2 separate regions of the Homo sapiens genome follow, and region 2 is linked to region 1. A link means that fine-mapping ties the variant in region 1 to the expression of a gene that starts in the linked region. Tissue or cell type: whole blood. Region 1 holds a variant in brackets; the other region holds the start of a gene. All regions are shown on one strand. Distances are from middle to middle.

The links. PIP is the estimated chance that this variant, and not a neighbour inherited with it, causes the effect.
Region 2: MRNIP starts here. The variant in region 1 is fine-mapped to the expression of MRNIP in whole blood (TOPMed, PIP above 0.99).

The regions. Positions count from the first base shown.
Region 1 is chr5:179,780,706-179,788,808 of GRCh38, forward strand. It overlaps the pseudogene LOC100884169. Among named protein-coding and RNA genes, the nearest start is that of LTC4S, 9.2 kb to the right of the region's middle. The variant A/G (reference allele first, on the strand shown) is at 4,210.
Region 2 is chr5:179,855,507-179,863,609 of GRCh38, forward strand. It overlaps MRNIP (MRN complex interacting protein), which reads right to left and starts at 3,311. Exons shown (of 7, transcript NM_016175.4): 1 at 3,225-3,311. The coding sequence starts at 3,290. TBC1D9B (TBC1 domain family member 9B) reads right to left here. Exons shown (of 21, transcript NM_015043.4): 21 at 6,565-8,103. The coding sequence ends at 7,942. It overlaps MRNIP-DT (MRNIP divergent transcript), which reads left to right and starts at 3,497. Exons shown (of 2, transcript NR_134283.1): 1 at 3,497-3,706; 2 at 4,524-5,777. RefSeq lists silencers at 2,733-2,842, 3,743-3,872 and an enhancer at 3,473-3,672.

The sequences.
Region 1 (8,103 bases):
GGAATTTTGCATCCTTATTAAGATCTAACTACATTTTATGTAGCAGAGACAACTGCTTGCTCACTACTTCTGGATTTATTACTACTGATAACATTTCTCATGAATTTTAAAGTTTTAGGCTGGTTCTATACTTGTAATAACAGATGATTTTATATAACGCAAGACAGAGTCCAACCACATGCAGAATCTTCAAGAGCTATAGATACTGCCGTCCGAGCTCTCTAGAGCTAGAGGCCTAAGGAGGTCCTAGCCCCCAAGTAATAAAAAATTTAAATCTTGGCAGGGTGCGGTGGCTCATGCCTATAATCCCAGCACTTTGGAAGGCCAAGGCAGGAGTATCGCTTGAGTCCAGTAGTTTGAGACCAGCCTGGGCAACATGGTGAGACCCCATCTCTACAAAAAGTTAGCCGAGCGTGGTGACACACTCCTGTAGTCCCAGCTACTAGGGAGGCTGAGGTGGGAGGCTTGCTTGAGACTGGGAGGGCGAGGCGGCAGTAAGCCATGATGGTACCACTGTGTTCCAGCCTGGGTGACAGAGTGAGATACTGCCTGAAAAATGAGAAAAATTAAATCTTGCCGGGCATGGTGGCCTTTGCTTGTAGTCTCAGGTACGCAGGAGACTGAAGAGAGATGATCGCTTGAGGCCAGGAGTTTGGGGCTGCAGTGAGCTATGATTTTACCTGTGAGTAGCCACTGCACTCCAGCCTAGGCAACATAGCAAGACTGTCTCTTTTTTTTTTTGAGATGGTCTCACTATGAATTGCTCAGGCTGGAATGCAGTAGCATGATCATAGCTCACTGCAGCCTGCACCTCCTGGGCTCAAGCACTCCTCCCACATCAGCCTCCCGAGTAGCTGGGGCTACAGGCGTGTACCACCATGCCAAGCTAATTTTTTTAAAAAAAATTTGTAGAGACAGGGTCTTAGTATGTTGCCCAGGCTGGTCTCAAAACTCCTGGGCTCACGCGAGCCTCCTGCCTCAGCCTCCCAAAGTGTTAAGATTACAGGCATGAGCCACCACACCCAGCCAACCCTGTCCCTTAAAACATAAAAAGATAAATCTGTGGCTTCTTTTTGATTCTTGCTTGTGCAGTAACAGGCATGTTCCTTAAACTTTGCAGCTGTCTGTCATTCCTTGCATTTAACCTACTCTATCCAGTTGATCCTGGATTCCCCTCCCCTGGGTCCACTTCTTAGTAAACCTATGGCATTATAGGAACACTAGAGCAGGAGAACAGGGCGAGTCTAAGCCTGAGTGTGCCACTGCTAACCATGTATGGGACCTCTCTGTGGCTGTCCCAAAGCGGGGAGATTGGACCAGACTGAGCGGACAGTTACAGAGGCTGTGATACACTCCAGATACCTGTCAGGACTGAGACCCATTTCCAGGAGTGTTGGACACTCATTGTTCAGAGCTGCTGCCAGCTCATAGCTGACTCTTCCTGGGAATTGTGTTCAGTGGAGGGGAGCTGCCCAAGGTTATGCCCTCTTCCAGGGGCAGCCCATGTCTGGAGACTTGTCGATATGGGAGTATGGAGACCCCAACACCCTTGCCTCAATTTGGGACATCTCCAAAGAGCCATCCTGGCTCCACTGCACCGGTGCTGTCGTCTTGAGGCCTCTGCTGCGTCTGCATCTCAGTTCCACCTCTCGCCTGCCCAATCCAGTAGCCCTTGCTCCCTTATGAGTGGTGCTGATGCCCTTTGAAATCTGCCTTTGGGGCACCTGGCTCGAGAGACTTGGTGCGGGGAGTGGTCCCAGGAAGCCGACTGTAAGCTGGCTCGCTGCTGACTGCTGGCCATGATGACCCCATCACCTGTGGCAAGTGGGACAGCTGTAAAGAGGAACTGTTAAACGTTCGCTGTGGTGGCACCAGGGCAGGACACTGGGGAAGGGAATAGAGTACCCTAGGCCTTTGGGAAGTGTAAGTGGAGGAGTGACTGTGACCTTGAGAGAGATGTTGCGGGGGTTATAGGTGATACCTCGGAGAAAGATAATGAAAAGCTGATCATGACTAATCACTAGAAAAGACACGATGTGAGATCCGTTAGAGGCCTCCTTGGCAGCCAGGCAAGAGGGTGGACACAGCTGAAGGGATCAGGCATGGGGTTGTTACTAAGGCTTCAGAGCTCCAAGAAGGTAGAACTTTCAACCTAGCCGAGTGTGCCATACCAAGGTCATTGTCCTAGTTAGGAATGTGGGACCCTTACACTGGGATGGGGACATCTGGATCGATACTCTAGAACTCTAGAAAACCTGGACACCCCAGCCCCGCCACCCTCCCCCACACCCTGAAACCTCTAAGCCCACTCCTCCCTGTTAAGGGCCGGTGCTTTGCTCTTGTTTGAAGGTCATGCCCAGGCCTCTGCCACCTCCCCTTAGGATCTGTGCTCACCACCCCTCCTGGCCCCTGGACCAAGAAGGTCAGCAGGAGGGTGCTGGGCCTGCCAGAGAAGAAAGAAGATGAGCTGCCTGGGGGGAGCAGGAGTGTGCCTGAGACAAGGGCATGGCCATATGGGGCTCTGCTATGACCTAGGACTCAGCACCCTTGCAGAGCCCCCAGGAAGCAGTGCCCGTAGGCTGCCAGCTCGGTCGGCTCTCTGAAACTTCCCAGGAAGCCATGGCCCACAAGGAAGAGAATAGCAACCTAGGGGCAACCGTGGCAGCTCTGCAAGAAGCGAACGAACGCCCAGAGAAGCGGGTGTGGGAGAGTGGAAATGCAGCTGACCCCTGAACAACGCAGGTCTCAACTGCCTGGGGCCACTTACATGTGGGTTTTTCAATAAATATATTGGAAATTTTTTTTGAAATTTGTGACAATTTGAAAAAACTCACAACTGAACCGTGTTGCCTTAGAGATAGTGAACAAATTAAGAAAAAGCTAGGTATGTCATGGACGCATAAAATATTTGTAGGTACTAGTCTATTTTATCATTTACTACCATAAAATATACACAAATCTATTACAGAAAGTTAGAAGTTAGTCTAGGTGCAGTGGCTCACACGTGTAATCTTAACACTTTGGGAGGCTGAGGTGGGAGAATCACTTGAAGCCAGGAGTTTCAGACCAGCCTGGGAAACAGTGAGACCTTCGTCTCTACAATTAGCTGGATATGGTGGCACATGCCTGTAGTCCTAGCTACTTGGGAGGCTGAGATAGGAGAATTGCTTGAGCCGAGGAGTTTGAGGCTGCAGTGAACCAAGGTCACACCACTGTACTCCTGCCTGGAAAACATAGCAAGACCCTGTCTCCAAAAAAAAGGTTTTTTACTGGGGGCAGTGGCTTACGCCTGTAATCCCAGCACTTTGGGAGGCCGAGGCGGGTGGATCACCTGAGGTCAGGAGTTTGAGACAAGCCTGGCCAACCTAGTGAAACCCCGTCTCTACTAAAAATATGAAAACTAGCTGGGTGTGGTGGTGGGCACCTGTAATCCCAGCTACTGGGGAGGCTGAGGCAGGAGAATCACTTGAACCTGGGAGGCGGAGGTTGCAGTGAGCCGAGATCGCGCCATTGCACTCCAATGTGGGGGACAGAGCAAGACTCCATCTCAAAAAAGAAAATAAAAAAAAAGTTTTTTTGGTCAAAAGTTACACATGCAAACACTACGTGGCACATTTGTAGTTAAGAGAAATGTAAAGGTGCAGTATAAATATAGCCGCAGCCTGAAAGACGAGGCCAAATGACTGCAGGTCCTGAAGCCCAGCTTGCAGCAGGTCAGCAGCTACAGCTGCCTCCATGGCTAGTTATGAATTTTTTTCAGGGCAAATGATGGGAGGGTTGGCACATAAGTGGGGGAGGAAAAATATGGAAACAAATACTATGAAGACAACAAGCAACGTTTGGCTACCACTGATGGGTCACATATACTGAAATGAGTGACAAAAACATTCTGGGATGTGGCTGGAAGCATGGTGCCTCCCAAGTGGCATCCTCTGCTTCACTCAGACTCATGATCCTCCAACAACAAAACCACCTCCTGCTCGCAGATTCTTTGGACAAACCATAAGTTAAGCGTGAGTGGCACCCCAGAACAATATGTGCCATTTTCTACCACTAGAAAGAAGACAGGAGCGGGTCCCATCTTCAAAACCTGACAAGCAAAGACAATGAAAAACAGTTTAAACACGCAAAATACAGGGCTTTTCATGGCATTGCACTTTGCTTACCATTAACTGGATTAAAATTGTTTGACAAAAAACTTATAACTGC[A/G]TACAGTTGACCGTAGCACATACTGTACTGCCCTGCTGATCTCACAGCCATCTCCTGTAGTTACTGCAGTGGACTTGAGAGTGGCGATGATCTGCTTAAAGCGCCATGCGTCTCATCAGCTCCAAGGGAGCAGTTTGTCCCTCCAGTAAATTGTAGATCACAGTAAAAAGGGATCTCTCGGCTGGGCGCAGTAGCTCATGCTTGTAATCCCAGCACTTGGGGTGGCCGAGGTCAGGAGATCAAGACCAGCCTAGCCAATATGGTGAAACCTTTTCCTGCTGACCTTTTAATTGTCTCTATTAAAAATATACAAATTAGCCAGGCGTGGTGGCGCACACCTGTAATCCCAGCTACTCGGGAGGCTGAGGCAAGATAATCACTTGAACCTGGCAGGCAGAGGTTGCAGCGAGTCGAGATCGTGCCACTGCACTCCCGCCTGGGCAACAGAGCAAGACTTTATTTAAAAAAAAAAAAAAAGGGATCTCTGTCAGTTCTTGTGTTTTTTCATCATGTTTGGTGCAGTACTGTAAATCTTCAGTAACACCATGGGACCCATACAACGTGCCATTAGTGATGCTGCAAGTGCCTCCAAGAAGCAAAGGAAAGTCATGACGATAAGAACAATTTAAGTTGCTTGATAGGTATTATAGATTGAGGTCTGCAGCCACGGGTGCCACCCTCCCAGCCGATTCATCTTGTAAATGGATGACATAAACGCACGGTATTGATACAGTACAGTACTATAAATGTGTTTTATGATTTTCTGAACATTTTCTTTTCTCTAGCTTACTTTATTGTAAGAACACAGTGTATGACAACACACTTCCCATACAAAGCAGGTGTTCGTGGACTCTTTATGTTCTCTCTAAGGCTTTCCGTCAACAGTAGGCTATTGGTAGTTAAGTTTTGGAGGGGCCAAAAGATGTAGTGGATTTTCGGCTGTGCAGGGGTCAGCGCCTCTAACCTCCACAATGTTTAAGGGTCGGCTGTACTCTGTTTGTGATGGCCCTGACACCTACCAGCCAAATATGTTCTGCAGGAGGGCTGCACTCAGTGGCTCACACCTGTAATCCCAGCACTTTGGGAGGCCGAGGTGGGTGGATCACCTGAGGTCAGGAGATCAAGACCAGCCTGGACAACATGGTGAAACCCTGTCTCTAGTAAAAATACAAAAAATTAGCAGAGAGTGGTGGGGCGCACCTGTAATCCCAGCTACTCAGGAGGCTGAGGCAGGAGAATCGCTTGAACCTGGGAAGCAGAGGTTGCAGGGAGCCGAGATTGTGCCATTATACTCCAGGAGCAAGAATGAAACTCCATCTCAAAAAAAAAAAATGGAGGAGGAGGAAGAAAAGAAGAGGAAGGAGAAAGAGAAGGAAGAAGAAGAAAGGAAGAAGAAGAAGAGGAGGAGGAGAGAAGAAAGAAGGAAGAAAGAAGAAAGAAGAATCATCCTGGCCTAGGCCCAGCTCCCAGTGGGACCACTGGGTCCACAGCTCCACCCAGCCATTTCCTTGGCCTTGATATCTAATCAAAGAGGACTCACTTCATAGTTGACAGAAGCCTCACACGGGGTATTGGCCTGGGAAGCCACAGTGGGGAAGGCCCAGAGAAGAAATGACAAGGAGCCTTGCTTCCCAGTGGGTCAGACACAGGGTGGCGTCTGCCTCATAGGTGCCTTTTTTTTTTTGAGATGGAATTTCGCTCTTGTCGCCCAGGCTGGAGTAGAGTGGCACGATCTCGGCTCACTGCAACCTCCGCCTCCTGGGTTTAAGCGATTCTCTTGCCATACCCTCCCAAGCTGGGATTACAGGCTCCCGCCACCACGCCCAGCTAATTTTTGTATTTTTAGTAGAGACGAGGTTTCATCATGTTGACCAGGCTGGTCTCAATCTCCTGACCTCAGGTGATCCGCCCACCTCAGCCTCCCAAAGTGCTGGGATTACAGGAGTGAGCCACCACGCCTGGCCATAGATGCCCATTTGATTTTCCAGTCTGGGCCCAACGAAACGCAAATGATCCCTAGCAGCTGACAGCAGTCTGCTGCAAACACAGCAAAGTTGAGTCCCAGTTGCAGCTGCAGTGACCACCAGCCAGCCTCTGTCATGGCCCCCGAGTGCTGGGCCCAGCAAGGCGGGCTCAAGAGCAGTAAGCAGCAGTGGCAGGGGTGGGGCCCAGCGGGATCCCAGCATCGTGGCTCTGGCTCACCCAGACAAACCCGGATCTGCCACCCAAGTGCCCAAGTCTCCAGCCTGCCAGTGACAGAGACCAGCGTTGGTCTCCTCAAGGGACTGAGTGAGGAGACCAGTCACCACCCGGTGCAAACTGAGTCCCTTCCACGCGGGAAAGGGCCACGAGCAATTCATGTTTTCTTTTTTTTGTTTGTTTTTGAGACAGAGTCTCGCTTGGTCGCCCAGGCTGGAGTGCAGTGGCACAATCCTGGCTCACGGCAACCTCTGCCTCCGGATTTTGTGAACCAAGCAGGAGGTTGCTTGCCCTGCATCCTGGCAGGAGTCAGCAATTCTCCTGCCTCAGCCTCCTGAGTAGCTGGGATTACAGGTGCCCACTACCATGCCTGGCTAATTTTTGTAGTTTTTAGTAGAGACGGGGTTTCACCATGTTAGCCAGGCTGGTCTCCAGCTCTTGACCTCAGGTGAGCCACCCGCCTTGGCCTCCCAAAGTGCTGGGATTACAGGTATGAGCCACGGCTCCCGGCCATGTTTTCTATTTTTAGCTTTTCATTTTGAAATATTTTCAACCTTACAAAAAAGTTGTGAAAATACTACAAAGACCTCAAAAACATTTTGCTAAGTTGTGCCAGACACAGAAGACCACATATTGTATAGTTGCATTTATATGAAATATCCAGACAAAGCAAATCTGCTGAATGCATGCCCCAAAAGTTCATGTGTTGGACTTAATCCCCAGTGCAACAGTGTTGGGAGGTGGGGCCTAGTAAGAGGTGATTGGGTCATGAGGGCAGAACCCTCATGAATGAATGTTTTTTTTGTTGTTGTTGTTTTAATTTGAGAAGGAGTCTCACCCTGTCGCCCAGGCTGGAGTGCAATGGCGCAATCTCTGCTCACTGCAACCTCCATCTCCCGGGTTCAAGCGATTCTCCTGCCTCAGCCTCCCAAGTAGCTGGGATTACCGTAGATTGCAGACCTGAATATAGGAGACTATCTTGATGACCTCAGAGTTGGGAAGAATTTATTAGACAAAATACAAAAAGAGTTAACCATAAGGTAAAACACTGATTCATTTGTTACAGTCAATTTAAGAGCTTCTGTGCATCAGGAGACACCATCAGGAGCCTGGAAACACAAGCCATTGGTGAAAGAGAGCCTCTCCCTGGAGGCAGGTTTTGGCTACTGTCAGGGAGCATGCTGGAGCCACAGCAGTGGGTGACATAGGAGTTTGCTTGTGCTAACCTGTGCACTGGGATGCCGTGGGTGCTGGAGCATCCTTCTACTGCAGGAAGGATGGCCTTGGGCCTGCACACTGTTGGACTTCTTGGGCCCAACAGAACCAGCTCCTGTGGCAGACTGCCCTGGCCACGCAGTCACTTGGTGCCCCAATGTCCCAAGGTCCAGTTTTCATTTGTTTTGTTTTTGGAACAATGTCCATTCCCTGCTGGGGAAGGCACAGCCTTGATCTGGGACCATAAGATTATGCACTATGACTCTCTCACGAGGCTTCTGCTAGAAACACCACCTGGCCCTGTCTCTACCACAGCTATTTCTAGCACCAGGGGGTGTGCTCGATTTTCTGAACCAAGCAGAAGGTTGCTTGCCCTGCATCCTGGCAGGAGTCAAAGCAGCAGTCCCGAGTGTGAACTGTGTTGCATCCAAAGCCTCCAGAGGCCCGCCAAGGCCTGTGTGCCTTTCTTAGTGGCAAGAG
Region 2 (8,103 bases), 75 kb after region 1:
TGGTTAGGTACAAAATTAAGATACCTTCAAAAATTAATATAGCTTTTATATGAGCAGACATCTAATTAGAACACATAATTGATAAAGAGTCCATTTATAACAGCAACAAATAAAATGTTACCAAGGGATACCAAGGTTACTTGAAGAAACGTAATGGATCATGTTTAACACCACAAAGATGTCTAGGTTGATCCATTAACATTAATACGATTAATATGATCCTAATACAAAATCATGAGGTTTTCGGGGGAAGTATCCAAAAGGATTCTAAGGAGGACAATGAGCACCTACCAAAAATTGAACTGGGTAATGACTTAGCAATTTTACTTCTCAGCTTCTACCTTAAAACACCAATAAAACTGTGGATTTTCTATGAGTATATAAACAAGTAAGAAAAGTTGTTTTTTTTTTTTTTTTTTTGAGACAGAGTCTGGCTCTGTTGCCCAGGCTGGAGCACTGTGGCGTGATCTCGGCTCACTGCAACCTCTGCCTCCTGGATTCAAGTGATTCTCCTGCCTCAGCCTCCCAAGTAGCTGCGATTACAGGTGCCCGCCACCACGACCTGTATTTTTTGTATTTTTAGTAGAGACGGGGTTTCACAACATTGCCCAGGCTGGTCTCGAACTCCTGACCTCATGATCTGCCCCCCTCGGCCTCCCAAAGTGCTGGGATTACAGGTGTGAGCCACCGCACCCGGCCAAGAAAAGCCTTTTTAAAAGTTTAGGACTCACAGAACCTGGTAAAGGAATTAATTGTGGGAACTGCTGAGATAGTATGGTTCTGCCACTCCCTAGATGGAGAAACCACTTGATTCCCGTGTATTTCGGAATTCTCATGTCTCTAAGATGGGAATGATGCCTAAGTCAAAGGTTGTTGAAGTTAAACGTGTTAAAGTAGTACACAGCCGACTTGCAATTAAAATTAAAGTAGTACATAGCCGACTTGCCGTCCTCTTTGGTTTCAAGTAATTTTTCTTTGTTTTTGAGACAGGGTCTGGCTGTCGCCCAGGCTGGAGTGCAGTGGTGTGAACACGGCTCACTGCAACCTCTACCTCCTGGACTGAAGCGATTCTCCTGCCTCAGCGACCCTGAGTAGCTAGGACTACAGATGCGCGCCACTACATCTAGCTATTTTATTTTGAATTTTAGTAGAGACAAGGTCTCGCTACGTTGCCCAGGCTGCTCTGGAACTTCTGAGCTCAAGTGATCTGCCCTAGTGGGCTTCCCAAAGTGCTGAGATTATGGGCGTGAGCCACCGGGGCCAAGCAACTCACATTTCATAAGGTTGAAAATGACCACGAGGGTCAGGGGCGCTGGCTCACACCCGTAGTCCCGGCACTTTGGGAGCTAAGGCGGGAAGAACACTTGAGCCCAGGAGTTCCAGACCAGCCTGGGCAACACGGCCGAAACCTCATTCCTACAAAAAATATAAAAATTAGCTGGGGATGGTGGCCCACACCTGTAGTACCAGCTACGTGGGAGGCTGAGGTGGATCAGCTGAGCCCGGGAGATGCAGGTTGCAGCGAGCTGTGATTGTTACCACTGCACTCCAATCTGGGCGACAAAGCGAGACCTTGTCTCAAAATAAATAAGTAAATAAATAAATAAATAACACTGGTGAACATGGAAGAGTGAAACAGGAAAACAAACAAGGAAATAGAGGCCGGGCGCAGTGGCTCACACCCGTAACACCAGCACTGTAATCCCAGCACTTTCGGAGGCCGAGGCGGGCAGATCACGAGGTCAAGAGATGGAGACCTTCCTGGTCAACATGGTGAAACCCCGTCTCTACTAAAAATACAAAAATTAACTGGGCTTGGTGGCGCGCGCCTGTAATCCAAGCTATTCGGGAGGCTGAAGCAGGAGAATCGCTTGAACCCAGGAGGCGGAGGTTGCAGTGAGCCGAGATCACGCTACTGCACTCCAGCCTGGCGACAGAGTGAGACGTGAGACTCTGTCTCAAAAACAAAAAAAGGAAATAAAAATAAACGGAAAATTTGTTTTTAAAAAACAGCATGAAACATTAGACGTGGAATAATTTAAAAATGCAAATGATCTCCCTTTATTTGCAACTCTTAGGACCCAGCTCCCGAAAGAAAATAAGTAAAAAGTTTCTGAGCCCTTAAAATGGCCCTTACAAACGCTTAGCATTAAATGCAAGCTTACAGACACATACTCAGCATCTTGCTGACTTTTTAACATACCTCTTAAACAAGTCTGATCCACGCCGGGCACAATGGCTCTCGCCTGTAATCCCAGCACTTTGGGAGGCCGAGGCAGGCGGGTCACCTGAGGTCAGGAGTTCGAGACCGGCCTGACCAACATGGAGAAACCCTGTCTCTATTAAAAACACAAAATTAGCTGGGCATGGTGGCGCATGCCTGTAATCCAGCTACTCGGGAGGCTGAGGCAGGAGAATTGCTTGAACCTGGGAGGCGGAGGTTGCGGTGAGCCGAGATCGCGCCATTGCACTCCAGCCTGGGCAACAAGAGCGAAACTCCGTCTCAAAAAAAAAAAAAAAAGAAGAAGAAGTCTGATGCTATTCTTTCTCAGGGCATAGCAGATTACCAATAATTAGGAGGGAGGGACTATCAGAAGCAGATACGGTGACTGCAGTGTTAAGTGATATCAAGCAGGGAGACAGGTGCGATCCGGAAAAGGTTAAGTGGCATTCTCTATCTGGCACGCTGAAAGTTAGGGAGGCAAATATGTCCTAGAAACACAGATTATCTGTCTTTAAGACTCCGGGGCCCGTGGTTTATGCGTCGGCGAACAGCCATATCAAGTCCCTGGCCCCGCGGAAACGGACGGCGGCAGAGGCGCGGGGCGACGGAGAGGGCGCCCAGGTGTGGAGCAGGGACGCCGCCGCGGCGCGCTCGGTCTCTAAGAACCGTCCTCCCCCTCTCACTGAAACTGCGACAGCGCTACTTCGTGGGGTAGGCTCTGCGTAAAGGATGCTATACTCAACCGGATTCTCCCACTACCTGCTACAATTCACAAGAGGCCACCTCCGCAGAACCATTACCTCTGGTTTGTACAAGAACCAAACAAAAAGCTCAGAACGTTATGCGGGGGCGACCCCAATGAGACCCGCCCTCAGCGGTCCCTGCACTCCTTCGGGCCCGGTGCATCCCGGAGCCATTCGAGACAACACCCACAGCCCCGCCACTCCCCGTCCGCTGTCCCCGCGCCGGAGGAGGAGGAGGGGGCTGGCACCCGCCAGACCTGGTGCGCCTGGAAGAGGCGGCAGCTGCAGCAGCGTAGCACCCGAGAACGCTGAAGCGACGCCATCCCTGCTTGTGCAGTCGCCAGGCAGCCAAGCGCGTGCGCTCTGCATTTGTCCCGCCGCGGCCCCGCCCCACGCACGCGCTCCGAACCCTCTAGTCCCCTACGCCGTCTCGCATGCGCTTATACTCTTCGCTCCGGCCGCCGCGGCCCCGCCCCTGCGCACTGGGATCCCTCTAGCCTGCCGCGCCTCTCGCTGGTCATCTGCGCCCCTCCGACCTCGGAAAGAGTCCTGGGTGCGGGATTCCTGGTAGCCGACTCGTCGTCTGACCAGGGCCGTGCCCGCATCTTCCTAAGGCACTGGTTCCGGCCCTGGGGAGACTGGAATTGAGACGACAGGGCCTCCGCTGACCAGTCCTTGGACACAACGCGGAGCGGGGCTGAGGGGCCGCCCTGCCAGGCCTGCGCTGCCGTGCTTTTAGGTAGCAGCGAACAGTTAGCCTTTGAACCGGAGCCCGGGGTGGAATACGGGGAGACGGAGGGGCTCACCACACCCACGCTTCCCGGAGAGGGCGGCGGAGGCGCGCGGCCGCCGAGCGCGAAGCCGGTCCCCCTGCAGCCCCGGGAGCGTCCCAGGCCCACCCTACGGAGGGTGGAGGCGCCCCCGCAGCCCGACGCTCACGCCGCAACCCTGTGTGGCTTAGGGTTGTAACCTCGTTGGAAAATAAAATACAAAAAATATTAAAATTACCTCCCACCGTACAACCCTCGGTGTCTAGGGTTGTAATTTTAATTTTTTTTCCAACTTTTACACAGTGACTATCACCAAAAAAGCGAGGTGTTTTTTTTTTGTTTTTTGTTTTTGGAGACAGTCTCGCTCAGTCGCCCAGGCTGGAGTGCAGTGGCGTGATTCTCCTGCCTCAGCCTCTCCAGTAGCTGGGATTACGGATGCCCGCCACCACGCCCAGCTAATTTTTGTATTTTTAGTAGAGACGGTGTTTCTCCATGTTGGCCAGGCTGGTCTCGAACTCCTGACCTCAGGTGATCCACCCGCCTCGGCTTCCCAAAGTACTGGGATTACAGACGTGAGCCACTGCACCCGGCCGACACTCGCTTTTAACAGCAGAAACCATCCCGTTGAAGAAAACACCCAATCCTGACAAGGGTGCAGGGAGGGCTACCCCTCTGACAGGGTGCTGGGAGAACGGTCAAGTGCAAAACCGTGGAAAGCAACCTGGCAATACTGCTACCCCAAGAAAGGAATCCCTTCACCTAGGTGATTTATTATTCATTCCCTAGTGTTCCCTGAAGAATACTAGGAAGAAATGGAAATCAGTGTTCTGAAGAACGGCACGGACTCTTAGGCAGTTCCATCAGCAAGAACCTGAGTTTGAAGTGACAACGTGCTGTGGAGAGGCAAGGTTACAGAATTACAGTACATCGTTTGACTTCTGTGACACCGGCATTATTTTCTGGCGTGTGTGTGTGTGTGTGTGGCTAAGGTCGTAGGTAATGCTAATTTTTAAATTTTTCCAACTTTTGTACAGTAAGTAGTTAGAAAAAAAAATTGAGAGACAATATGCCAATAGACAATGGTCAGATAACGAATGACAATAAACTGACTGCAGCCTCTGCAGTAACCGGGCAGTCGGCTGCTTGGGAAGGACGTGGTCAGGACTGCTTGCTCCTCTATTTTTTGTACCACCCTCCCCATGTCAGAACCAACCCAAGAAAGCGCTCCCCAAACCAGTCACAGAAAACATCCTGCTTCTTGTTAGCTCACCTCCAGTTTCCAACAGCCTGCGGTCAGAACCACCTGGAGCCTTCCCCGTTTTCCACCCCCTGCGTCCTTGCGCCTACCCACACCGGGGATGTTGCTGACTCCCTTGCTGTAGCAAGCTCTGAATACTGTTTCTCATTTGGGTGGTTTTCCTTCATTTCTACGTTTGAGCTACTGTGGCTGAGAACAGAAAGCATCTGCAAAAAATGTTTTATGCTTAATGAAAGGAGTAGAATAAAAATTTCATATATGACATCAGTTAAACTCTGAAAAAAAATACAGAATAAACACCAAAATACTGAGTAATCTGTAGCACTAGGAAAAATTGTTCTACTTTTCTGTATATTTTTCTCCTTTTGGCAATGAACCGGTAATCCTTTAAAAATTCATGTATATAGTTTTTTTTCTTGGAAATTATAAGAATGATTTGATGAGTGGTTTGATGCAACTTATATTACTTGGTAAGCAGTTTTAAAATATTCATGTTTACTTATAAAATTTAAATTTTTTATTTGTATTATCTATATATTATTTAATGTTACTGTTCTGGTTGTTAAACATTTTGAGTTATCTTCCCAGGTTGAATGATTTATGGATTAAAGTACTATTGTACATTTTCGTACATTGTATCACGTGAATAGGCCAGATTCCTCTTTCCTATTCTTTGGTTAATTTCTTTGGTGTATTCACAAGCTTATACTTCCATATATTAAAAACATTTATCTTACCTCTGTAAAGACAAAAAATGGGAAATAAAAAGCCATTTATCCAAATTCCAAGTTATTCAAATCTAATTGAATATAATCAGTGTAAGACTTAAAATTGCCAAATATGTGGGGTTATTATATCTTAATTATATTAAGGCCAACAATGGTCTTTTTGGTATAAATCATTTGAAATTATTTTATGGTACTTTGTGTAAATACTAGAAAGGAAATTGAAGCCAGGCATGCTGGTTCATGCCTGTAGTCCCAGCTACTAGGGAGGCTGGGGCAGGAGGATTACTTCAGGCCAAGAGTTTGAGGCTGCCATGAGCTATGGTCATGCCACAGCACTCCAGTCTGTCTCTAAAACAAACAAACAAGCAGACCGGGCATGGTGGCTCACGCCTGTAATCCCAGCATGTTGGGAGGCCGAGGCGGGTGGATCACGAGGTCAGGAGTTTGAGACCAGCCTGGCCAATATGGTGAAACCCCATCTCTAGTAAAAATAGAAAAATTAGCTGGGCGTGGTGGTGCACGCCTGTAGTCCCAGCTGCTTGGGAGGCTGAGGCAGAAGAATTGCTTGAACCCAGGAGGCAGAGGTTGCAGTGAGCTGAGATCACGCCACTGCACTCCATGCTGGGCAACAGAGCAAGACTTGGTCTCAAAAAACAAAAAAACAAAAAAACAAAAAAACAAAGCTACTTAATTAAAACAAAAACAGCAGCCACAGAGATATACAATAGTACCTGAGTTTCACCTTCTGCAGCTTTAGTTACCCAGAGTCAACAGCCACCTGGAAAAGAGATGAGTACAGTACAAGAAGATATTGTGAGACAGACCACATTTACAACTTTCATTACAGTATAACCGTTACATTTTATTATTAGTTATTGTTGTCAATCTCTTAAGGTGCCTAATTCATAAACTTAATCACAGGTATGTATGCATAGGAAAAAACAGTATGTATAAGGTTTGTTATTATCTGTGGTTTTAGACATCCACTGGGGGTCTGGTTTTAGATATCCACTGTATCCCCTGTGGATAAGGGGGTAACTGCTGTATCTTTTAGTAGAAGCAAGAGCAGCCCCATGTGGGGGCTAACACTGGACACTGGTCAGTTTCAGCTCCTCATGCAAAGTGAGGGTATCCTTGTGGCTCCAGCCCTGGGGCCCCCTGCGGTCACCTTTGGCTCCACAGTCTGGTTCTTGAACCCAAGGGCAGACAGCTTGCTACAGCCCAGGCCTGAGGATGCACTTCCTTCACCAGGACCCACAACCCCTGCCCATGAAGACCTGTGGAGCTCAGGGCATCCCCTGATGCAGGTTGGTCAGGACCTGCCCAGCTTGCACCAGCAGGTTCTGCGTCTCCATCTGACCTGGCAGACCTTGCACTCTTCCACCCACTGTGGAGGACTAAGTGTCTTGAACTTCCAGAACACAGCCAGGGCCCCATACTTGGCCTGGGGAGAAGTTGGGAGGCCTAAGCAGTGGTTGGGGGCCACAGCAAGGCATTGCACACAGTGGTTTTTATTTCTTTCAGGGATTTATTAAGGCATTGAGCACAGTGTAATTTCTAGCCAAGTGAAATGAATCCAAGGAAATATATCAGGACCTGAGGGATGTTTTTTTAAAGTTACTGGAAAGGATGATGAGCTGAGAGCACGTGTACAGCCACGCCTGTGCGCAGCGCCCACTCTGTGCAATAAACATGTTCTGCCCATGTTCCTCAGTCAGGAGGTTCAGGCTCCCGGAGAGCACCTGAGGGTTCCATCACTTTGGTGCCCAACAAGCACATGCCCCCCAACCTGGTGCCAAGAGGCAGGAATGACCCCCATACCACATAGCTGCAGGAAAGCATCCACGGATGGAGGGACTCAGCTGGCCTGGCCGCAGTGTGGAGCACAGAGGTATGAGGCAAGCAAGGGCAGATCTGAGAGCCTGTAATGCTAGGCAGGTGCAGCTGGTGCGAGGCGGGCTCCCACCAGGTGTAAGGAAGGTGGGAGCCACAGCCTCTTCCTGGGCCCAGAAGCAGCCGGCGCCAGGAGATGCAGGCCCAGGGAATCTGTCTAAGGCAGCTGGGTCTGCACCAGCCTTCTTTCCACTCACAACTCACTGCTCCTGGGAGAGCAGGAGGGGCACACCTTTAAAGAGAAACTGATAAGGGAGGAAAGGCAGGAGGAGATGAGGCCAGCCCCACTGATGACACCTTGGGCCAGGCCTCACAGCTGCAGGCATCAGCCGGAAACTCCAGGCTGCTCATGGTCACTGGCGGTGCTGAACTGTCTCTCCACTTTCTTTTGGTCCTTGATCTTGAGTCCAATGTCCACTCTCTTCTCAAAGAAGTTCACCAGCACGGACTCCGTCAGGATGGAGGCCAGGATCTGCTCAAAGGAGAT